Homo sapiens: one gene and its partners. The protein of the gene in region 6 interacts with the protein of the main gene of each other region in a pairwise test. Each region holds a gene or a part of one and is shown on either strand. Other genes may lie near its edges.

Region 1 (3,500 bases), on a different chromosome or scaffold from region 6:
CATTTTTTTTTTCCGTTTGTAGAAATAGGGTCTCTCTCCATGTTGTCCAGGCTGGCCTCAAACTCCTGGCCTCATGTGATCCTCCCACCTCGGCCTCCCAAAGTGCTGGGATTACAGAGATAAGCCACCTTGCCCAGCCTATTTTATCATGTTTTAATCTACTGAATCATGTCACAATGTATCTATTACCTTGAGTCACTTGTGTGCAGCCCAGATCCAATGGGATCACAGCAGCTTCTGATCCTTCTGACATTTGGAATGAAGATCCCTGCATCACAGCAAAAAACAGGGTTATTTTGTTGATGTTTAACTCACCCCTCATTAGACCCAGTGAACTCCTTAAAAAGATGTGTGGGGCCCGGTCTCCCTGCTGTTCTCTGGGGGCAGGGGGTGGGGCGGTGCTGTCTTTCCCACTTGCAGTCAATGTACTTAGAGAGATTCAGGACAGACAGTACCTGCTCCTGGTCCATCTGGCTCACCACAGCTTCATATGGCGGCGGGGGATCCAGAGGACAGAACACTTCCACACCTTTGATTCGAGCTCCGTAGATGTGTGGCAGGGGAATAACATCAGGACCAACCATCCTAGGAAAAGCGACTTGGCGTCAGAAAGCACGTTCTACAGACTGGCCACGTGACTGCAGTGATGCCCGGATACTGGCTTTGCTCTAAACTGTGGGGAAAACCACTCACCTCTCCATACCATGGTCTCCTTGGCCAGGAGAGGGAGAATAATAGAAGCTGCTCTCCGACGAAGTGGCCAGAGTTCCTTAAGCAAATGACAGTGTATAAAATGCAACCCCATCATTGCTTTTAAACCCATCAGTCAAAAAGCAAACAATCCATAGAGACACAGAGCAGATTAGTGGCTGCCAGGGGATGGGGGAGAAGGGAATGGGGAGTGACTGTTTGATGGGTATGGGGTCTCTCTGAAGTACTGAAAATGCTTTGGAACTAGATAAAGATGATGGTTACGAAATAATGTGAATGCACTAAATGCTACTGAATCATATACTTTGGTTAATTTCATTTTATATGAGTTTCACCTCTATTTAAAAAACAGCTAAGGACTCAGGAAAATTCAATTATGTCTTACATTCTACATGACTCTTGTTTTTGTCCTGTGGGTAAAGAACCGTCAACAGCAAAATTCAAAATAATAGCAAAATCCTCCACAAGATTTTTCACCAACGTTGACAGAAAATTCCACAAATCTCTGCCCAAGGTACCAGATGATCTAGATAATGATGAACCTAAGTTTTAAAATAATTTATAAAATACATATAAAAGCCAGAACACCTGCATTCTGCTATGGAGTATCAAAGAATGAAAGAAAAAAAAAGAGAACAAAAGTTTGTCTGTTCTTGAAATACAAAAAAAGGATTTTAAAAAGCTAAAAGAAATGGATGAGAAAACAGATTCTGGGGCTAGTTGCTTGCAGGCACTGCCTTTTGGGGAGCAGTGTTCTCTGAATTTATAGTTGTTTCATTTTATTCTTTGTGGCTATATACAAAATGTGATTGGTGGAAGAAAAAATTTGAAAAGGATATCATCTTCTTTCTTCCTAACAATAAAACTTCTGGAATTCTGGGACTGAGAAGAATGAGACTCTGCAACCTGAATGAAAAGATGAGAAAGCACTCCCTCGTTTTCCTCTATATTTGTCTGTTCGTAAGCGAGGCTCTCATCCCTTGCTTGACCTGAAGGGGAAGGCAGAAGGTGATGAGCTAATGCCTGAAGTGGAGATGTTTGCAGGTTCAGCACGCAACACATCAAGCCTCCAGTTGGAAGCGAGGCACTAGCACAAAGGGTCCCTTCGTGGGGGAGGGGTCCTGGCAAAGTTATTATGAAAGAGAGATTCTCCCCCTTACAGCAGGACTTGCCAACGGGCTTCATTCCAACTCCCCCATTCCACTGAAACTGTTTAAGAACTATAAATGCTGAGTGACTCTGAGAAGCCAGACCCTTCCTGGATCTAAGAGTGAAGATTCTTTCCTGGCAAATGAACAGTGCAATTTGCTTTCATCAATGAGACCTATGGACTTCTATCCTCTCCAGAGGGCCAGCCTTCCATCTTTAATGAGCATAGCCCCCATGAGCCACCTTCCTAGCACTTATAAACACTTGACTTTTTCTCTCCAACAAATGACATCTGTATTTCTTCGCTGCTGTGTCCCCTGCCTGGAAAGTTTCTATCCCCGTTGCCTGTTTGTTACGTGTCCAGAGAGAGGAGAGGGCTTGCTGAGGGCCAAGAGGTCAGAGTAACAGGCTCTGTTTTAGATCCTAAACTATTGTAGAATTTCTTCCCGAAGAACAACTGGGGAAAGAGGGGGCATACTTTATCCAAGCTGACCACAGAATAAACAGCTTCTATGGTAGTTTTGATAATGCCCATAAAAGCCTCACTTTGAAGGAAGATGCTGCTAGAGTTGACATAGAAGGAAAGTTCCTTTCCTATTAAGCAATTTCTTATTTTACCTCATTTGTGTTAACAAGGGTCTGTGGAGGGAAATGGATCTGCTACATACTGGCAGGTTGGTTTTTTGTTTTTGTTTTTGTTTTTGTTTTTAACTACTGTTTCTTTCCCCAGATCCCCATGGCTCTCAGTCCTGGCAAGGTAGGTAGAATCACCTTGGGAGGTTCTGAAACTCTGGATGGCCCAGGCCTCACTTTTAGAAATTCTGCTCTCATTGCCTATCGTGGGACCCAGGAATCTGCCCGTTGTCAGTGCTCCTAGGGGATTCTAATGCACCACCAAGATTGAGCACCACTGCAAAAGGAAATGGATAATGGTGATTGAAATTAAAGCCCTGTTCTACTGGGAAAGTTGATCAAATTTTTATTAAAGAATGAGGGTCTTGCTTCTTTTCAGAAAGCTTCTTATGTCCATTATCTCATAACAATACTCCCTGCAGCCACATGACAACGAAGGTGAATGAGGAAACTGAGGCTCAGAAATGGTGAGAGACTCATCCTGGGTCACCCTCTGCAGAGACTCTAGAGCCTGGCTCTTTCAAGTCCATCACCAAGTCCCCAGGAAGACTTCACTGGTGCAGGCTCAGGAGCACTGAAGATGGAAATTCAAAGCATGTTCTGCTTTCAGGCTACAAATAGGCCCTGAAGACTCACTCAGGTGGAATGCAGCAGCAGATACACCATTGACCAGAGAATCCTCCTCCTCCTGTACTGGAAAACTGTACCCTGTGACTGGGTACAGGGTTGCTGCCTGCAGAGGGGGAGAGAGGGAAGGGCCCTCCCCCAACCCTCTACAGCTGAGCACTGACTCAACCCCAAGCATCGCCCGGCTCCACTTGAGTTTGGGTTTGGAAATTCTTAGGAAAGGAAATGAGTGGGGTTTGGGGGGGCTCTGCTTTAAGAAATGCCCATGTCAACCACGTCAATGCCCAAGACCCCCTCAGTCTTCGGTTTTCTTTAATAGGCTACATCCCCAGAGTAAAAACCAGATCCATGTTCAAGAAATAGGTTGGAGACTCCTTGAT
Region 2 (3,500 bases), on a different chromosome or scaffold from region 6:
GGGTCATAAAAGGATAAGAAGTTTTGAAGCAATTCCTATGAAGAATTTTAATGTACAGATTCTTTAAAGCTTCCCTCGGGCTCGAGCAAAACATTATTATTTAGGTCATGAAATTCTAGAAGAAAAAGGAATCCCTGAGGATATTGCCCTGTACACAGCTGGAAGCAGCTGTGAAGCTTGTCCCTACATGCAGGGCGTGGTTTCAGCAGATAAGCAAGAAGAAAAGACGGAAGACCAATTTCTGGGGACGGATACGCTTAAGAGCAGCAGGGATGACTTGGCCTCCCAGGGGGCATTTTTGTTCAGAACACTGGGGAGCGTGGTGCTCCTAGCATTAAGCGGGTGGGGGCCAGGGATGCTATTCAATATCCTACAATGCACAGGACACCCCCTACAATAAAGAAATGTCTTGGGCCAGGCATGATGGCCCACACCTGTAATCCCAGCACTTTGGGAGGCTGAGGCGGGTGGACCACCTGAGGTCAGGAGTTCGAGACCAGCCTGGCCAACATGGTGAGACCCTATCTCTACTAAAAGTACAAAATATTAGCCGGGCCTGACGGTGCACACCTGTAATCCCAGCTACTCAGGAGGCTGAGGCAGGAGAATAGCTTGAACCTGGGAGGCGGAGGTTGCAGTGAGCCGGGATCGTGCTACTGCACTCCAGCCTGGGCAACAGAGTGAGAATCCATCACAAAAAAAGAAAGAAATGCCTTAGGCCAGGCACAGTGGCTCACACCTGTAACCCCAGCAGTTTGGGAGGCCAAGGTGGGCAGATCACCTGAGGTCAGGAGTTTGAGACCAGCCTGGCCAAGATGGTGAAATGCCAGCTCTACTAAAAATAAGCTGGGCGTGGTTGTGCACCCCTATAATCCCAGCTACACGGGACGCTAAGGCAGGAGAATCGTTTGAACCTGAGCAGTGGGGGTTACAGTGAGCCGAGATCGCCCCACTGTACTCCAGCCTGGGCGACAGAACCAGATTCCATCTCAAAAAAAAACAACACAAATGTCTGGCCCTGAATGTCAAGCATGGTGCAGTTGAGAACCCACCCCCGCCAGCACCCAGAGAGAAGGGCAGGATGGCTTGGGGCCAAGTGGGAGGCAGACTCACCCCAGCAGGCACAGGCTCCCGCAGGACAGCCAGGTCAGAGCACCGGCGTTATAGGACAGCTGACTCACGATCATCTTGTTGCAGGAAGGACAACACATTTGGATAGGGCGGTCCAAAAAGGTGATGGGGTGCTGCACGTAGACCGTCTGCACGGTAACTGATGAAAGGGAGAGGGACAAACACAGGTTGCTCAGGAAACAAGGCCAATAGCATTCACTACAGGACAAAGAGAGGAACGCAGGGATGCCAGCAAATATTATATTTGTACATTTGTGTTCATAGCATGCGTTCATCGTCTGGCTATCTATGAGAGCCAAAAGGGGAAGGAACACCAGTGTCCATCGACGGACCAATAAACTAACACAGCGAAGTTTATCCATCCACCAGAATATGATTCAGCCTCAAAAAGAAAGGAGGACCGGGCGCGGTAGCTCATGCCTGTAATCCCAACACTTTGGGAGGCCGAGGTGGGAGGACTGCTTGAGCCTAGGAGTTTGAGATCAGCCTAGGCAACATGACAAGACCTCATCTCTACAAAAAAATATAAAAATTAGCCCAGCGTGGGAGTACACGCCTGTAGTCCCAGCTACTCAGGAGGCTGAGGTGGGAGGATCAGTTGAGTCTGAGAGATTGAGGATGCAGTGAATCATGATTGCGCCACTGCTCTCCAGCCTGGACAACAGAGCGACGCTCAGTCCCAAAAACAAATAAATAAATTTTAACCAGCCTCACACTGTGCCTAGCAGCTCTTGATAAATAATCCACTCTCTTTACACAAACCCTTTGATAAACTCTGACAGCCAATGATAAGGGTAGAGTTTACCAAGCCAGGAAACGCAGGCCAACTCTGTAAGACAACAAGCTAGTGAACTGTGTTGATACAAGAAATGAAAATATAAAATAATGCTAGGAAGAAAAAGCTATGTGAAAACATGTTCGAACATTCTCAAGAATCAGAAGAGAATCCAGGCCGGGCACGGTGGCTCACACCTGTAATCCCAGCAAATCCCTTGGCTTTGGGAGGCCGAGGTGCGTGGATCACCAGAGGTCAGGAGTTCAAGACCAGCCTGGCCAACATGGTGAAACCCTGTTTCTAAAGACAAAAATTAGCCGGGCATGATGGCACGTGCCTGTAGTCCCAGCTACTTGGGAGGCTGAGGCAGGAGAATTGCTTGAACTTGGGAGGCAGAGGTTGCAGTGAGCCGAGATTATGCCACTGCACTCCAGCCTGGGCAACAGAACAAGACTCTACCTCAAAAAAAAAAAAAAAAAAAAAAAGAGAGAACCCAGGGTGATGAAAATCATCAAGCACTTCAGTTGTTAAGCTCATATTTTTGTTAAAGCAACTTCCTTCTGTTCCTTTTTACGTTAGAATGTCATTTATATAACAAATGAATTAGGGGGAAATTACTGCCTAGAGTTAACTGAACTTAGTAATACTCATAGAAAGACCCTCCTTCCAGAAAAGTAGTATTAAATCATACTTTAGCACTTACGTGTAATTTTTTTTTGGCAGGGGGGACAAGGTCTTGTTGTGTTGCCCAGGCTGGAGTGCAGGGGTACAATCATAGCTCACTGCAGCCTCAACCTCCTGGGCTTAAGCAATCCTCCCACCTCAGCCTCCCAAGTAGCTGGGACTACAGGTACAAGCCATCACACTCAGCTAATTTTATTTTCATAGAGACAATGTCTCACTATGTCACTCAGGCTGGTTTGGAACTCCTGGCCTCAGGTGATCCTCCTGCCTCAGCCTCCTCAGTAGCTAGGATTACAGGCGCAAGCCACCACACCCTGTTCATACATTTTATTAAGTGTTTTTGGGGTTCAAGAATAAGTTATTTGGACCAGGCTCTGTGACTCATGCTGATAATTCTAACACTTTGGGAGGCCAAGGGAGGTGGGAAGATCGTTTGAGCTCAGGAGTTAAAGATCAGCCTGGAAAAACAGTGAGACCCGATTTACACAAAAATTTAAAAATTAGCCAGGTGTGGTGCTGTATGCCTGTAGTCTCAGCTATTCCAGAGACTGAAGTGGGAGGATCACTTGAGCCCAGGAGGTCCAGGCTATAGCGAGCCATGACTGCACCACTGCACTCCAACCTGGGCAACATGGTGAGACCCTGTCTCAAAAAAAAAAAAAAAGAAAAAGAAAAAGAAACTATTTATTGATCACAGGATGGTCTAAGAATCTAAAGTCATTATCTCATCCTCTTCCAGCTCAAAATAACTTGAACACAACAATAAGAGTTCACTTTTATCAAACGAGTACTCTGTATTTGGCACACACAACTTCCTCTCATGTTAACAACTCACTGATATTTATAAATAGGTACTTGATGAAACCTATTTTACAAATGGGGAAGCTGAGGCACAAGGAGGTTATGTGAA
Region 3 (3,500 bases), on a different chromosome or scaffold from region 6:
CCGCAACTAGTTCTCAGAAATTCACCATCTGACATCATATTAGATAATCCTAAAAATAAAAGTAATGTTTACTTGGTGCTAGATATTTTTAAAAGTAGATAAAGTCATATAAATATGAGCAAAATTTCAAGTCCTGGATCCTCCATATATCATTTTTTTTTAAGTTATTAAAAAAAAGCAGTGGAAAGCATTTAACTGGAAAGAGACCGTCTCAGAGTGCTTACACTGTAACAAAAAGCTAAAGCACATCACATATATGAGTGAAACTAAATTTCCTTTCTAAATAAAAATGTTGATTCCCATCACAAATGAGGTTATTCTGAAGCATATTAACTTTCCCAAACATGAAAACATCAAAATATTATTTACCTATTTCCATAGTTGAAAGAATAAAATAGAGACTACTACTTTTTTGCCCTGTGCTTTCAAAAGCCTCTTTAAATTCTGTAATTAGAAACCAGATGGGCCCCACCTCATAAAGAGATTATGTTCCAAAAGTTTTTAATTTAGAAATATTTAATTCAACATGGAAAAAATAATCTATTGAACCAAAAATCTAGCTGAGCTATAGTAATAAATAAGTTTCATGATTTAGAGAAGGAAGAGAAATAGAGAAAGTAGTTTCTAGGTTTTTAGATTAAAGACAAGGTATAGACCACAAATAGGCAACAATAGCCTGTACCTTTCTATCTCTTTCTCTTTAATCTCTCACTTCCTAGTCTTTTTCTCAAATACCCTATTAAGGCATCCTTTCCACGTATGTTTATCCCAGAAAGTGTTTGGAGTATAAAAATCACATTTTATGTACCTTTTACCCCTGACAAAAACTGTTCTCTAATCAAGTTATTAGACGTTACACCTAAGGACCTCTTTGTGGATCAGTTCAGAAGGGCTTTTTTCCAACTGCATGCATATTTTCAGGTACCTTGGTTTATATGCATTCATCAGGGAAAGTGCCCATACTTTCATGAGATTTTCAAAGAAGTCTGGGACTCCTCCCCTCTCTTCAAAAAAAAAAAAAACAAAAAAACAGTTATGCATCATTTCCTTAGGAGAAAATGCAGATTGAATGGATTTATCTTGATGACAACCTTCTAACTTCTCTAGAGGTATCTGCATTTTTAAAGTGTATTTAATGAAAATTAATGAAAATTTAATTAAATGAAAAAAAAAAGCTACTGAGGAGATTTCAGCTAATTCCTTTTCATGGTACAGAACGTACAAGGTTGAAAAGTAAAGTTCTTAGTTCAATGAGTTGTTATGCTTTAAAAGGTAGCTAGTACCTTTCTGAACAACCCTGGAGTTACATACCGAAATCGGCTATCTTGGCATTCATGTGTGCATCCAACAGGACATTCTCTGGTTTCAGGTCTCGATGAACAACCATATGCCTATGACAGTAATCCACAGCAGACAGAATCTGCTGAAAGAGCCGCCTGGCTTCCATCTCTTCAACCTATCAAGCACAAAAGAAACTGCATTAAGAATATCTGGGGCTGGGCACAGTGGCTCATGCCTGTAATCCCAGCCAAGGCAGGTGGATTACCTGAGGTCAGGAGTTTGAGACCAGCCTGACCAATAAGGTGAAACTCCATCTCTACTAAAAATACAAAAATTAGCCGGGCATGGTGACATGCACCTGTAGTTCCAGCTACTCAGGAGAGTGGGACACGAGAATTGCTTGTACCAGGAGGCAGAGGTTGCAGTGAGCTGAGATCATGCCACTGCGCTCCAGCCTGGGCAACAGAGCAAGAGTCTGTCTCAAAAAAAAAAAAAAAAAAAAAATCTGAGACATCTATTTGACAAGAGTTTTAATTTCATAATTAGGCTAAATATAATTAAGCAAGCTAGAATTATGTTGGAATTCTCAACAAATCAGACAAAATAAACCAACCAAAAGCTTGTCAAAGCTCAACATGTCAAAAGACAAGTTTGTCTTTGTCGCTAAGCAGAAATATTTAAATTTCAATTAATATTATTAAATGTGCACAATGTTTTGGGGAATTGACAGTAAAACAAACTAAAACAGAACATATGTGAAAGTGCTAAGAAAAGGAAATAACTGATCTTCAACATGATTTTATGGAACAGATTTTAAAAAGCATACGCATCATGTTGGCAATTAAGTGAAACATATTTTCTAAAATCAGTATTTCAAAAGGAATGCTTTTTAAGAAAGAAAATTTATCTAACACTCTACATGTTTAGTTGAGCACTACCATAAAAGCAACTTCAACCTTGAAGATATCTTTGCATTGTTCTATGTCCCAATACTTTCCTTTTTATTAGTTTAGAGATTTAGTGTACCAGATAGTATGTTACTCACCCGTCCATGCTTACAGATGTAGTCAAATAATTCACCTCCAGACACATATTCCATTACCATAAAAAAATCTGTTGGAGTGCTGATCACCTGGTATCTTTTTTGTTAATTAAAAAAAGTTAACAAAGTATGTTACTTTAACCAAAATCAAACTGGTATATCTACTCTTGCTACAATTTTATATTTCAATGTTTTATAATACTTTAAGATGGCAACAAATTACATGTTATCAAAATAATCACAGAGCAATAAACACGGACCATTACAAAATTATTCTATTTCTTGAGGCTCACGGCCGTTCCTTTAGATCCTCCCTTTCAAGTTTACATAATTTTTGAAATCTTTCCCTCTTCAACAACTAATTTTTCCATATAAACAAAAATTTGTTTACAGTAAAAGGAGATGAGGTATCACATATTTAAAGATAAACAGAAAATATACTTGGGCCAGACACTATGGCTCATGCCTGTAATCCCAGCACTTTGGAAGGCCAAGGTGGGAGAATCACTTGAGCTCAGGGCAATGTTTTGGGGAATTGACAGCAAAACAAACTAAAACAGAACATACATGAAAGTGCTAAGAAAAGAAAATAACTGATCTTCAACATGATTTTATGGAACCGATTTTGAAAAGCATAGGCTTCATGTTGGCAATTAAGTGGAATATATCTTCTAAAGTCAGTATTTTACCAGCCTGGGCAACATAGCAAGACCTCATTTCTGTAAAACATACATATATTTTCCTGGACACGTAACATGATACTACAGGGATACATTCAGCAAAATCCAGGAAGTGAAAAATGACCATTTCCTCAACAAATAAAATGCAAGAAAAAAAGGGAAAGGATAAACTATACGTTAAAAGTAACTTAAGAGACATATTGACCAATTATGCTGTATAGACTTATTTTGATTCTGATTCAAATAAACCAACTTTAAAAACCATTTATGAAACAATCAGGAAAGTCTACATGCTGATTAGTGGTGGATAATGTTGTTAATTATTTTAATTAAGATGTGATAGGCCGGGCGTGGTGGCTCACGCCTGTAATCCCAGCACTTTGGGAGGCCGAGGCGGACAGATCACAAGGTCAGGAGATTGAGACCATCCTGGCTAAACCAAACACGGTGAAACCCCGTCTCTACTAAAAATACAAAAAATTAGCTGGGCATGGTGG
Region 4 (3,500 bases), on a different chromosome or scaffold from region 6:
GTTGGTATGTGACACCAAATCCTCGTCCTACAGTCACCTGGGAGACAACAACAATGCAAGAAATACCATCAGTCATTGTGCTGAAAAGGGAGGTCCTTTACAAATCTCATCAACCAGCAGCATATGCAGGTCCTGACTTAAGAAACCAGACACCTGTGGAACCAAAACAGTGCATCAGCTATCTCCTCTTCAGCTGTCTTGAGAACCACCAAGTAGAAAAAGGCAAACGGTTGTGACAACAAGAGAAAGCTGAAAAAGAGTTATCCATGTATCTCAGGGTTGCCAAGATCTTGAAAGGTCATCTGGTTCAATGACTATGAGATAGAGGAATTCTTTCTACACATCCCATCAACGCATAAATACTGTCAGTAACTTTACATAAGGCAGGCCCTCCAATTTTTAAAATGTCTCTGACTTGGCATTTTTCTCCTTGTAAATTCCATCCATTGGCCCTGGCTTTGCCCTGGGCACCATCGGGAAATCTCCAATCCCCTTTCAATGGCACAGATATAAAGTGAACACTGAGTTTTCTCTTTTCCTGGTTCTGTATTCCCAGTTACTTCAACTTAACTCCCAGGGGATGGGCTTGAGCCTTTGCCATTCTAATGAGTCTGTGAAGGGACTGCTGGTTTATCTTTATTCCTGGATGGCATATTAAGAAAAATAAACTTAATTTCTATTACACAGTCAAACGCAAGTGTTACTTTCCCAGTTCTAGATATTATCACTGGAGCATATAAATTGCATTAGCTTTCATAGCAGATCTAGTACACTGCCAGTGTATCCTCGAACTTAGGAATGATTAAATTTCTTGGTCTCCCCCTCCTCCAAGAAATGCTATCCTAAGTCCTGTCTCTTCTGCTCTATACTTGACTGGATGGAAAACCTTGGATTCAAGCGCAGGACCTTAGATTGATTCCTATTAAATTTCATCTTGCTAGTTCAGCCTATCAAACCAATTTGTCAAGACCTTTCTGAATTTTTAATCTGCCATCAGATCAGACATACTTAATATCTCTTCCACCAAATTTATGAGATGATGCCTTCTATACCTTCGTTCAAGACACAGAATGGGATGCAGCCAAAGGCAAAGTTTTCAGGAAAACCTAGTAAACATTAACCCACACCATCTGGATATACCTTCAGCCAGTTATAATTCAACCAAAAGTCTTTGCATTGGAGTACATATTCTCTGTCTTATCCACAAGAACAGCTTGAGAGCTTCCGGAAAAGGTTGAAAAGAAGCCCCAGTTCACATCTATCATACTTTCCTGTTGGACCAGTCTAGTTCATAACAACCCTGTGAAGGAAGGAAATGAAATTCTTCTGAGTTCCAGATCACAGAATTCCCTTATTCTTTTTTGTTTGTTAATTTTTTTTTGTTTTTTTGAGAGAGTCTTGCTTTATCACCCAGGCTGGAGTGCAGTGGCACGATCTTAGCTCACTGCAACCTCTGCCTCCCGGGTTCAAGCAATTCTCCTGCCTCAGCTTCCACGTAGCTGGGATTACAGGCACGCACCACCACACCCAACTAATTTTTGTATTTTTAGTAGAGACGGGGTTTCACCATGTTGGTCAGGCTGGTCTCGAACTCCTGATCTCAAGTGATCTGCCTGCCTCAGCCTCCCACAGTGCTGGGATTACAGGTGTGAGCCACCGCGCCCGGCTCCCTGCATATTCTTCTTAGTGCACAAACGACCTCTTTAATGTCCCATATCACAACCTTAACTGGGAACTTTAAACCAAAGTTAGCTAAAACTGCCCTCTTCTCTTCTCTTTAAAATCTTTCAGAATGCCTGTCCTCCTCAGTCCCTCAAAGACCACCACGACTCACTGACCTAATCTATTCCTCCCCACAAACTCTTATCTCAGTATTCACAATACTATCCAACCAACTACTCAACCCATAACCCAGAAGCCATCTTTGATTCATCTCTGTCCCTCATCCCCACATTGAAATCACTGGTAAATTATATGGGCTATAATTCAAATATGTCCTAAGTCTGTTCATTCCTATCTCTGCAGCCACAGCCTTAGTCCAAACCACCTGGCCTCCTACTGTTTCTGTTCTCACTCTAGCCCCCATAAGCTTTATAATAGTAACTGGAATAGAAATGTAAAAATTTTAAATCAGGTCATTTTCCTTCTTTCCTTAAAACTGTCCAATCATTCAAACTTCCTTCCATGGCCTATAAGACCCTGAATGTCCTGAGCCCTTCTACTCTTTAGTCTTAACTCATACCATAGTGCCAACACTAGCTGCTCCAGCCCCTCAAACTTTTTTGTTGTTGTTGTTCCTTAAGCCCATCTCCCCGAAGTGCCAGCCTACCTGAGGGTCTTTTCACTTAGCCCCTCTGCTAAGAACACTCTTCTCTCAGATCTTGCACAGGCTCCTTATCTTTCATGTTCCAGCTACTCATAAGCCTACTCTGATTACCTCTGTCTAAAGTTGGTTGTCTGCTTCCCATCATATTTCTTCAGTTATTAGGAAGTACTTATCACAGACCAAAATTATCTTGTTTATTTTACTTTTCCCCTCTGTCCCCGTAATAGAATATAAATTAGATAAGCAGGGACTTTATCTGTCTTGTTTACCACTGTGTTTCTATACCTGGCATAGTGTTCAGTTAAGTATTTGAGAATGAATGAAAGAATAAAGAGGTCTTGCATATGAGTCCTCAAGATTTTAGGGTGGGTGTTTTTAGGTCAGAAGTTAGAGACTGTATTACCATTGGAAAATATGGAGCAGCAGTTGGAACTCATACAGTCTCACTTGTTTCTCTTTAAAATGTTGTGGTGATCACTCCACCAACACTGAGCACAAAGTTTTTCAGTTCTTTCACACTCTGCCAGAATTATATTAATTATAGAAGTTCCTCTGAATACACATATCTGTTAAAAATGGAATGGCTAGGGATTTATCTGTCGTCCATATTCAGTAAAATTTCTATTTAGGTAGCTTTATCTCTAAGAGAGGAAGCATCTCATATTACATGCTAATACTTGAGGGGAGACAGCCAGACTGCCATTGTGAGTAGCCAGGGGAAAACAGTACCAAAACAGTAGAAGAGTGCCTTTTCCTGACATTGCCTCCAACAGACTCTGAACCCAGAAAAAGGAATCATTCTTTTACATCCTTCCCTGCACTGCCTGGTCTTAGAATTTACCTTGGTACTACTGATATTTCACCTATACTGTAGTTAAAGAGTGCAGTGAGGTTACCTGGAAATCTCAGGACCACTCAACATAACACTGAATTTCCCGTGGGAACTGACTGACGACCCATATGTGAGGGGTTGTTTTCATTTACAATAGTTTTGCAAGCCTTTGAGCTTACACACATTATTGATCTAAAAGATCATCCTGTCTTTGCCCACCTTCACTAAGACTATCTCTTTCCTCCTGGGCACAATTCCTACTGTTTCTCAAATAACAAGTAAATCTGGCCAGGTGTGGTGGCTCACACCTGTAATTCCAGCACTTTGGGAAGCCCAGGCGGG
Region 5 (3,120 bases), on a different chromosome or scaffold from region 6:
GGGTGGAGCATGGTGCCCCTCACAAGCCGCAGCGGCTGGTGCCCGGGCTACCAGGGACATGCCAGAGGGCTCGATGACTTGTCTCTGCAGGGCGCTTTGGTGGTTGTTCAGCTGGCTAAAGGTTCACCGGTGAAGGCAGGTGCGGTAACTGCCGCACTGGACCCTAGGAAGCCCCAGGTATTCGCAATCTGACCTCCTCCTGTCTGTTTCCCTTCACGGATCAATTCTCACTTAAGAGGCCAATAAACAACCCAACATGAAAAGGTGACAAGCCTGGGTTTCTCCCAGGATAGGTGAAAGGGTTAAAATGAGTAAAGCAGTTGAGCAAACACCAACCCGAGCTTCGGGCGCAGAATTCTTCACCTTCTCTTCCCCTTTCCATCTCCTTTCCCCGCGGAAACAACGCTTCCCTTCTGGTGTGTCTGTTGATCTGTGTTTTCATTTACATCTCTCTTAGACTCCGCTCTTGTTCTCCAGGTTTTCACCAGATAGATTTGGGGTTGGCGGGACCTGCTGGTGACGTGCAGGTGAAGGACAGGAAGGGGCATGTGAGCGTAAATAGAGGTGACCAGAGGAGAGCATGAGGGGTGGGGCTTTGGGACCCACCGGGGCCAGTGGCTGGAGCTTGACGTCTTTCCTCCCCATGGGGGTGGGAGGGCCCCCAGCTGGAAGAGCAGACTCCCAGCTGCTACCCCCTCCCTTCCCATGGGAGTGGCTTTCCATTTTGGGCAGAATGCTGACTAGTAGACTAACATAAAAGATATAAAAGGCAATAACTATTGTTTGTGAGCAACTTTTTTATAACTTCCAAAACAAAAACCTGAGCACAGTTTTGAAGTTCTAGCCACTCGAGCTCATGCATGTGAAACGTGTGCTTTACGAAGGTGGCAGCTGACAGACGTGGGCTCTGCATGCCGCCAGCCTAGTAGAAAGTTCTCGTTCATTGGCAACAGCAGAACCTGCCTCTCCGTGAAGTCGTCAGCCTAAAATTTGTTTCTCTCTTGAAGAGGATTCTTTGAAAAGGTCCTGCAGAGAAATCAGTACAGGTTATCCCGAAAGGTACAAGGACGCACTTGTAAAGATGATTAAAACGTATCTTTCCTTTATGTGACGCGTCTCTAGTGCCTTACTGAAGAAGCAGTGACACTCCCGTCGCTCGGTGAGGACGTTCCCGGACAGTGCCTCACTCACCTGGGACTGGTATCCCCTCCCAGGGTCCACCAAGGGCTCCTGCTTTTCAGACACCCCATCATCCTCGCGCGTCCTCACCCTGTCTCTACCAGGGAGGTGCCTAGCTTGGTGAGGTTACTCCTGCTCCTCCAACCTTTTTTTGCCAAGGTTTGTACACGACTCCCATCTAGGCTGAAAACCTAGAAGTGGACCTTGTGTGTGTGCATGGTGTCAGCCCAAAGCCAGGCTGAGACAGTCCTCATATCCTCTTGAGCCAAACTGTTTGGGTCTCGTTGCTTCATGGTATGGTCTGGATTTGTGGGAATGGCTTTGCGTGAGAAAGGGGAGGAGAGTGGTTGCTGCCCTCAGCCGGCTTGAGGACAGAGCCTGTCCCTCTCATGACAACTCAGTGTTGAAGCCCAGTGTCCTCAGCTTCATGTCCAGTGGATGGCAGAAGTTCATGGGGTAGTGGCCTCTCAAAGGCTGGGCGCATCCCAAGACAGCCAGCAGGTTGTCTCTGGAAACGACCAGAGTTAAGCTCTCGGCTTCTCTGCTGAGGGTGCACCCTTTCCTCTAGATGGTAGTTGTCACGTTATCTTTGAAAACTCTTGGACTGCTCCTGAGGAGGCCCTCTTTTCCAGTAGGAAGTTAGATGGGGGTTCTCAGAAGTGGCTGATTGGAAGGGGACAAGCTTCGTTTCAGGGGTCTGCCGTTCCATCCTGGTTCAGAGAAGGCCGAGCGTGGCTTTCTCTAGCCTTGTCACTGTCTCCCTGCCTGTCAATCACCACCTTTCCTCCAGAGGAGGAAAATTATCTCCCCTGCAAAGCCCGGTTCTACACAGATTTCACAAATTGTGCTAAGAACCGTCCGTGTTCTCAGAAAGCCCAGTGTTTTTGCAAAGAATGAAAAGGGACCCCATATGTAGCAAAAATCAGGGCTGGGGGAGAGCCGGGTTCATTCCCTGTCCTCATTGGTCGTCCCTATGAATTGTACGTTTCAGAGAAATTTTTTTTCCTATGTGCAACACGAAGCTTCCAGAACCATAAAATATCCCGTCGATAAGGAAAGAAAATGTCGTTGTTGTTGTTTTTCTGGAAACTGCTTGAAATCTTGCTGTACTATAGAGCTCAGAAGGACACAGCCCGTCCTCCCCTGCCTGCCTGATTCCATGGCTGTTGTGCTGATTCCAATGCTTTCACGTTGGTTCCTGGCGTGGGAACTGCTCTCCTTTGCAGCCCCATTTCCCAAGCTCTGTTCAAGTTAAACTTATGTAAGCTTTCCGTGGCATGCGGGGCGCGCACCCACGTCCCCGCTGCGTAAGACTCTGTATTTGGATGCCAATCCACAGGCCTGAAGAAACTGCTTGTTGTGTATCAGTAATCATTAGTGGCAATGATGACATTCTGAAAAGCTGCAATACTTATACAATAAATTTTACAATTCTTTGGAATGAGGCTTTTTCACTTCTTTGGCCAAATGTAGCTCTTCTCACTTCCCACCCCTTTCTACAATAACCCCGGGTGCATTCAAGGGAGGCGAAGCGATCCCTCGGAGCTGCTGGGCAACCTTGAACAGTTCGTTCAAACTTTCTGTTTTATTAGTTCAGGCAGCATTCAGGGAGCCCAGTGAAAACACTAGCTCAGGCAGGTTCTGGTAAAGGGGGTGGTCGTTGTTAAACAATTTTGCAAAACACTGCATACTTTTCCTCCGTCGGGAAATCATTATTCACCATAGCATGACGAAAGCTCTGATAAGGTCTGCAAGGAAAAAAGAAACTGTCTTAGGTAGGGTTCTTCCAGAAGTAACCCCAAGACGTGGCCTTGTGTGTAAGGGATTAGGACGTTTTAAGGATGTGCTCCCAGGGGGCTTCCGCTAAGGGAGTCAGGGAAGAGGATCAAGGAGGGGGAGAACCTGAGCAAGGGAGACACTTGTGGACAGAGTTCCAGCCTC
Region 6 (3,500 bases):
TACTGGCATGGCAAGCACACCCCCAGCAAGCTGCCCAGCATTTCTAGTAAGGAAAAAAGCAAACCGCCGTCCCACCTCGGGCTGCGCGGTCACAAGTGAGGCAGGGCTGGGACCAGTCGCCATTTGGGCGGGAGGCCAGCCCCAGGTGCGGCAGGAAGGGGTGGCGCTGGCTCAGTGGCTGCAGCTCCTCACTCTGACCCAGCGGGGCCCCTGTGCGGTGCTGGGGGCACAGCGAGGCCTCAGGCGCTGTGGGGCAGGGACACACACACACACACAGAGAGACACGCCATTAGAGGGTGCGCAGCAGCCCCTGCAGGAGGTACGGGCCAAGGCCACTCGGGGTCAACCCCGCAGCCCACTGCGGTGGAAGCTGTGAAAAGCCCACTGACCACATTCTGACCCTGAACATGCAGCTCAAGCGTAAGGTCTGAGGGAACCAAAAACATCACAGCTGGAACTGCAGCAGTATCATTTAGCCCAGCAGGACCTATGGCTACAGGCCCTGGACTCGGTATGAGGAGGAGGGGTGGATCAAACCAGGCTCCTGCATCCCCACTGTTCCAACCCCTGCATCTGCAAAGTTCCACAAATTGTTCATGGAACATGAAGCTGTTTCAGCTCCTTGCTTAGCATCCTCTGGCTTCTTGAGAATAATGACCATGAAAAGCACATAAAGAGAATGGCAGCTCCCCTTGGCCTGCATCAAAGCCACAGCCACAGTCACAGGGACAGAGGAAGTCAAGGCAGGTTGGGACCAACTCAATCCAAAGAGAGCCTCTCTGGGGGTTGGTAAGAGGATCCTTGAGAGAAATAAAACAATTTCACTTCTTAAAGGGCAATCTTCATTTGTTTTGGTGCAATTTAACCCTGCATTGAGGCTTCTGGAGATTAAGGTTAAATTGTTTTCAAGTGGTTTAACCAAGGTCACAACCTTTGCTTAAGCAAAACAGTTCAAACTAAGAAGAAAAATGACAACTACATATGGGACAAGAATATGTTAACCTGCTCCAAGCTCGGTAATAATTCAGAATTCCTAGAAGCAGGAAATCTGACTTTAATATGCAAATCTCTCATTTAACACATTTCTCAAAATGCTAGTGGTGGCGGTACAATGTCAAATCGAAACCTGCAAAAGCAGGAAATGTTAGTAAATGGTCTGGTAACAGAACACTGACTAAGTAAGGGTTGACTGAGGTCTGTCAAACTACAGACAACTTCCTTTAAAAAGAAGTTTTCTGCTATGCTGACATAGTGTTACTAGGGATCTGCACTTTTGTTTTAGCAGCCAGAAGATATAATTTCTACAATCCCCACCTCCATCCTCACCCTGTCCCCCAAAGGCCACTAGGGCCACCTGTCTCTCTGAGTGTGGGGTCCACACTGTGGCTGGAATAGCACTGTGAAAATGGAGAAACACCTGTTGGGGGACCACTTCCAATGAACAGCCAGGATGCCAATGTGACTCACAGAGACCAGCTTCCATCAGGCCCTGAACTCCACTCTGTTCCCTGAAACCTCTTCTGACCATAAGGCAAAGACCCAAATTAATCCAACATGCAAAACCAGAACTCAATGCAGACCCAGCCATGCAACCAGATCACTAGCAACTCTCATTTGCATGTTTGGCAGGGAGGCCTTGTTCACACTAGCAACCTGTACAAGTTTTTTTGCTGAAGTAGAATAATACTGAGCCATTCAAGAGACCTGAAGCTCAGTCAGCAGAAAAACACTTAATATGAGATTAAAGAAACAAGATTATCAAGAAAGAGCATTTGTTTCCTCCTGGCTACCAGAGTCAACTCCCCATTGTATGTGCAGCAGGACAACTCCTTTGCTGCCAGACCCATTCTGACAAGGAAGCAGAAAAGACCTGCCTCTGCCCACCGTCTGCCCAGATGTACAGAATGAGGCCCAGAGCAGCAAAGGGCGTTAGAGATCCCTGAACCAGAGCAGCCAAGGGACTAAAAGTCCCTTTATAACCAAAACTCAATCCAGACCAAGGACAATTTGCCTGGGCCACCAAAAGCTGGGTACTGAGGACAGGTTCGAGCTCTGCAGTGGCCACCACTCCCTAAGCCCAGAGACACCCACCCTGCCTGTCACCCATTGCTGCTGCTCTGGCAAAGGGTGAGAAGCACTTCCATTACTCACAGCCATGGTAGGAGGCCGGGGAGCCCCCGGCCTTGCCATACTCCTGCTCCGAGTGGCTGGTGGAGAGGTTGGGCTGGCTGGAGCCTCGCCCAAAGGTGATCTGGTTGCTGCCCATGCCAGTGGCAACCTGGGCCATGCGCTCTTTGGTTTTGAGAGCCTGGGCCCTCTCAGCCTTCAACCGTTCCTCGTCCTTGAGGAGAGCCACCAGTTGCTTTGACTTCTCACGCACATTGATGCCCTGGTCCTTGCCATCTCGGTCAATGTACTGGAAGTCCTTCAGGGTCTGGATGGCGAAGATGTTCTCCCGGCACTGCTGGGCCACACGTTCGGAGCCTGTCTTGATGAGGTAGTCCAGCAGGGTCAGCGCCTTGTACACATGCCGCCAGTTCTTGCCATGGTCATTCAGCCGCTTCCACACCATGCTCATGATCTCCGAGAAGGCCACCACGTTGTAGGTCAGGTCGGCAATCTCGGTCATCAGAGAACTGGACGGGCCCCACGGGTCATTGGAGGTGGCTTCCCGGACTTTGATTTCTGCCTCTGAGTAATTGTTCACGATGTTTTTCATCTGCCGTCTGATAGACGAAGTCGTCATTTTTATTTTCTTTGTTATAAGTTTAAAGCCCTTCAAACAGAGAAACCTTCCTGTCCTTGGTAAGTGCGCACCCTATGAAGGTTCAGTCTCCGTAATCAAGCTGGAGTAAGATCCCTGAATGGTCATTTCCTCCTTTGGAGCCTCAGATTCGAAAAGCTGGAAGCCATGACCTAGAGAAAGAGAAAACCCATTCCACTGCGACGTAAGCCCCCTGTGAGGGTGGGAGACTGTGGTCCAGCAGCAGGTACTGGGTAAAACTGGGGAGCTGAGTGGACATACCCAGCCTCCTTAGGACGAACCCAAGATAAAATCAATATCACCAGTCAACAATGAATAAAACTTACACTCAAGTTTAAGCCTTTAGGAGAAAAGAAGTAAACATCATGACTATTGCTCTATTTTCAAAACACTTCCACTGGAATGGCTATTTTATGGGTTGTCTTTTCACTGCCTGGCAAAAGCCAGCTGTGGAAGAATCGGAAACACTGGGGGAAGCTGATCTTGGCAGATTTAAAATTACATGTGAGACCAGATATGGTGGCTCACACCTGTAATCCCAGCACTTTGCGAAGCTGAAATGGGAGGATTACTTGAGGCCAGCCTGGTCAAAACAGCAATACCCCCATCTCTATTTTTTTAAAGTTTATTTAAATAAAAAAAAATACACATGAGGACAAGAAAGAGACTAATTTCAGGTCTATCTTAACTCAAAAATGCCTGTCAATACCTTCAAAACTGCTTTGGTCCACTGTGT
Region 7 (3,500 bases), on a different chromosome or scaffold from region 6:
GGAGAGAAAGGGGCCTATTTCAATATGCTCTAGGAAGCACTGGTGTCTTCAAGGTTCATCATCTACGCCAGGTGACTGAGAAACTGTGTATAACTGATAGCCCCTCACACTGCAATAAGGAAACTCCTGGACGAAAACCATGTTATGGAGGGAAGCAGGGTGCCTGCCTCTTATAACTCTACTTTGTATATATCTTGTACCTCCTTGACACTCCAGATTCTCCTAGGAGGCTGGGAAATTCGGGCTTCCTTTCCTTAAATGAGAAAAGCCCAGTCTTCCCAGACTGATACTTCCTAGTATACAAAGAATAACAAAATACAGGAAAAAGGAAGACATCATCCCCATTTCAATCAAGTCTGATCCAGGACATAACCAAAACATTGTGTGTTCATTAGTAGTTTGTACTTCTTTTTTCCTTTTTCTTGAGACAGTCTCACTCTGTTGCCCAGACTGGAGTGCAGTGACACAATCATAGCTCACTGCAGCCTTGAACTGCTGGGTTTAAGTGATCCTTTTGCCTCAGCCTCCAGAGTAGCTGGGATTACAGGCGCAGAATCTTCCCGTCAGCAGTTGGCATTTCATTTGTTTGTGAAATGCTTGTTCACGTCCACTACCAATTTTTCTATTGGGGTGGTGCTTCCTATTGATATAAGTCTTTCTTGTAAAGAACAATATCTTGTTGCAAATCTCTTTATCTGTCTTTCAGGTTTTGTTTTTGAGTATGTTTGGTCACATAATAAATGCTATCAAATCTATAAAAAGTTTCCTTTATTGTTTCTGCCTTTGGAGCCACATTTTGAAGGGCTCTGTGGCTGGCTATTAATAACCCTCCCCCCAGTGGCATAAATCAAACTCCCCTTTCCTTCTAACACTATGACAAGAATCCACTGCAGAATCTTTCTGCATTAAGCACATATTGGTTTAATGAAAAAGAAATGTTTTTAACCGTAATGAATGCTGTAATAAAAGCCACAGAAAAATTCAGAATACAATACTTATTTTTTTAAGTTCTAATTAACTTAACCTTTAAAATCATTACAGGGATTCTTCTGTTAGTTCAATTTCTATACTTTTCTTAGAAACCTTTATCTAGAATTGTTAGGGAAATGCTCTATCTACAAATTCCCAAACTTGATATTTCACTACTTCATTACCAAGATTCTCATTGCTTACTGCTTCTCAATTCATTTAGTTCATCAGGCTTCTTATAAAACAAGTAAGTGTTGGGGCTTGGTCTTACACCCAGGCAATCTGACTCTAGAGTCTTATCTCTGAACCCATTTGCTATCCCTAAGCCTACCAGGCCACAAAGTGATACCAAAAAGTAACAATTAACCTAGTCTCCTATACAGCAGCCTCACCACACTTCACCCCAGGTTTCCCCCCAATTGTTTAGAATTTGACTTCTCTATAGATTGCCTGGCACACTACCTACGGTGGTTCTTCTTCCCTTACCATGTGCTGATCTTCCTCCTCACCATCCCAGTGAAAGGACTTACCTCCAACAATACAGGAAAATCAGCAAAAGTGCACAGGAGCTCTGCCACATGCTTTCTTCTCACTCGGACCCCATTCTGTTTCTTTCTCAGACAACTCTCCCTCCTTACCACGGTCAACATTTGTCACTTGTGCTCCAGATGGCTAACTCCATCACCTCCAATTGCTCTCTGTCCACTGACTTCTTCCCCTCAACCTTCAAATATGAAGAGGTCTCATCTATCTTAAAATTCAAGTCACTTAAGGCAATATAAGACTCTCTCACTTCTTAATGTATTCAGCCTTCTCTGAAATTGCATTCACATGATTATCTGACTTCTTCTCCTTCACCCTGAACTGTACATTTTCCCCTCCAAACCTACTTCTAGAATCTCTCTTCCAGTGGCTTCCTGGTTTTCCCACTCCTCTGACCCCATGCCTTTCTTCCAGTTTCTTCTTTGGTCTATGTCAAACAGCCTCTCAGGCAGTCTACTTCAAATTAGCCTCTTCCTTCTATTAATTCCTAACCGTGGGCTCCAATGGAAGATTCAATCCACCAGTTCTTTCTCTCTTTGTGGTTGTCTCAGAATACCCAGCAGATGACTGCAGAGAGTCTAACGTAAAGCTTTCAAGTCCTCCCAAACCTTATCTCCAACCTGCCTGTAGCATACTTTGACTTAGATATCGCACCTTAAATTTAACACATCAAGTCTAATTTATCATTTGCACAATTTTTATTTCTTCTACAACCAGCTCTTCCCTATTCTTAAGTAACATCTTTATTAGTTTTCCAGCCACCAAGTTTAGAAACTTAAGGATATATCTCCGACATCTCTTTCTCATTACTTTATAGCCACATAATCACCAAGCCTTCATGGTTTTTTGTTTTATTTTATTTATTTATTTATTTTTAAATCCTTCTCTTTCCATGTCTACCTTTACCAGAGATTTATCATCTCACACATAACTCAATAGCTTTCTTACTGATCTCCTGGCACTGGGCTCTATCCCTCCAGTGCAAACTGCATGTTCAAACACTTTCAGTGACTTCCCAATGTTTCCTTATTCTGGCACTCTAAGGCCCTAAAATTCTCACTGGAAGTCAACCTTTCTGAGCATCTCCTCCACACCACCATACTAGGCTCCATGAGGAACACCCACTGAGGTCAGGCAGGGCTGCTCACTGCCTCTGGATCTGTGCTATTTGATATGATAACCACATGTGGCTACTGAAACATAAATTAATTTTTTAAAAAATGCTGTTCCATGTGTGGCTACAGCTACTGTATTAGCACAGATGTGGAACATTTCCATCACTGCAGAAATTCTATTGGACAGTGCTGCTCTACAGATACTCAACACTCATGCTTATCTCCCAGTTTTTCATGCCATTACTCTGTCTATAATGTCCCTCTTCCTTCTGCCTATGCAAACTCACATGTCCTTCCAGGCCACAGTGGTCCTGATGTGAGTTGTCTGTACAATTTACTCCTATACTACCTTGTAACGGCTCTTATAATGTTGCTGCATTTAATTTTTCATGTTTGTGTATACTCTAATTATTAAGCCTCAGAACTAATAAATATTCAGGGAATAAATGAAGCATATACTTATTACAATACTGCAGCAAAATGATCAAATAAGGGCCCATTTAATATCCCTCCTTCATTAAAAAGATACGTTTCTTTTCCATCTAAACAAACAAAAGATCTTGCATTTAGTTAACTGAATAATGGCTTAATTAATGCCTAATTATAACCGTTGAGAGAGTCTCCCCCCCACCTTTTTTCTTGAAGTGTTTGAAACTAAAAGAAAAAAAAGCTATAAAGGTCTGGAATACTTCTACTTTGCATAAGCACACCACAAAGAAACCACACACACACACACACACACACACACAAAAAGACAGGGAGAGGATAATACATGAATAGTTGGAGTAACTATACCCTAACAATCTCAGATTGTAGAGCAAAATATCCACAGTACAGCAGCCCTACAATTAAGGGGAAACTACAAATAAAGCA

What was found.
Region 1: the proteins of EPN2 (region 6) and ENTREP1 interact in a two-hybrid assay, tested with the Homo sapiens proteins (one large-scale study listed by IntAct).
Region 2: the proteins of EPN2 (region 6) and LITAF interact in binary tests that used the Homo sapiens proteins (3 or more experiments, as listed by UniProt).
Region 3: the proteins of EPN2 (region 6) and PRKAA2 interact in binary tests that used the Homo sapiens proteins (3 or more experiments, as listed by UniProt).
Region 4: the proteins of EPN2 (region 6) and RNF8 interact in binary tests that used the Homo sapiens proteins (3 or more experiments, as listed by UniProt).
Region 5: the proteins of EPN2 (region 6) and PMEPA1 interact in binary tests that used the Homo sapiens proteins (3 or more experiments, as listed by UniProt).
Region 7: the proteins of EPN2 (region 6) and SMAD1 interact in binary tests that used the Homo sapiens proteins (3 or more experiments, as listed by UniProt).

Annotation. Positions count from the first base shown.
Region 1 is NC_000009.12:69,380,715-69,384,214, reverse strand, and holds part of ENTREP1 (endosomal transmembrane epsin interactor 1), read right to left. Parts: intron 1,701-3,500; coding exon of another isoform or gene 1,685-1,700; exon of another isoform or gene 776-1,684; intron 770-775; coding exon of another isoform or gene 694-769; intron 586-693; coding exon 456-585; intron 269-455; coding exon 190-268; intron 1-189. UniProt on the Homo sapiens protein: Functions as an activator of the E3 ubiquitin protein ligase ITCH in the ubiquitination of the CXCL12-activated CXCR4 receptor. Thereby, triggers CXCR4 endocytosis and desensitization, negatively regulating the CXCL12/CXCR4 signaling pathway.
Region 2 is NC_000016.10:11,552,420-11,555,919, forward strand, and holds part of LITAF (lipopolysaccharide-induced tumor necrosis factor-alpha factor), read right to left. Parts: intron 1,271-3,500; coding exon 1,114-1,270; intron 1-1,113.
Region 3 is NC_000001.11:56,690,314-56,693,813, reverse strand, and holds part of PRKAA2 (5'-AMP-activated protein kinase catalytic subunit alpha-2), read right to left. Parts: intron 2,421-3,500; coding exon 2,327-2,420; intron 1,457-2,326; coding exon 1,312-1,456; intron 50-1,311; coding exon 1-49. UniProt on the Homo sapiens protein: Catalytic subunit of AMP-activated protein kinase (AMPK), an energy sensor protein kinase that plays a key role in regulating cellular energy metabolism.
Region 4 is NC_000006.12:37,356,983-37,360,482, reverse strand, and holds part of RNF8 (E3 ubiquitin-protein ligase RNF8), read right to left. Parts: intron 38-3,500; coding exon 1-37. UniProt on the Homo sapiens protein: E3 ubiquitin-protein ligase that plays a key role in DNA damage signaling via 2 distinct roles: by mediating the 'Lys-63'-linked ubiquitination of histones H2A and H2AX and promoting the recruitment of DNA repair proteins at double-strand breaks (DSBs) sites, and by catalyzing 'Lys-48'-linked ubiquitination to remove target proteins from DNA damage sites.
Region 5 is NC_000020.11:57,647,896-57,651,015, reverse strand, and holds the end of PMEPA1 (protein TMEPAI), read left to right. Parts: 3' UTR 1-2,620; downstream 2,621-3,120. UniProt on the Homo sapiens protein: Functions as a negative regulator of TGF-beta signaling and thereby probably plays a role in cell proliferation, differentiation, apoptosis, motility, extracellular matrix production and immunosuppression.
Region 6 is NC_000017.11:19,282,366-19,285,865, reverse strand, and holds part of EPN2 (epsin-2), read right to left. Parts: intron 2,917-3,500; 5' UTR 2,747-2,916; coding exon 2,152-2,746; intron 247-2,151; coding exon 76-246; intron 1-75. UniProt on the Homo sapiens protein: Plays a role in the formation of clathrin-coated invaginations and endocytosis.
Region 7 is NC_000004.12:145,488,353-145,491,852, reverse strand, and holds part of SMAD1 (mothers against decapentaplegic homolog 1), read right to left. Parts: intron 1,577-3,500; exon of another isoform or gene 1-1,576. UniProt on the Homo sapiens protein: Transcriptional modulator that plays a role in various cellular processes, including embryonic development, cell differentiation, and tissue homeostasis.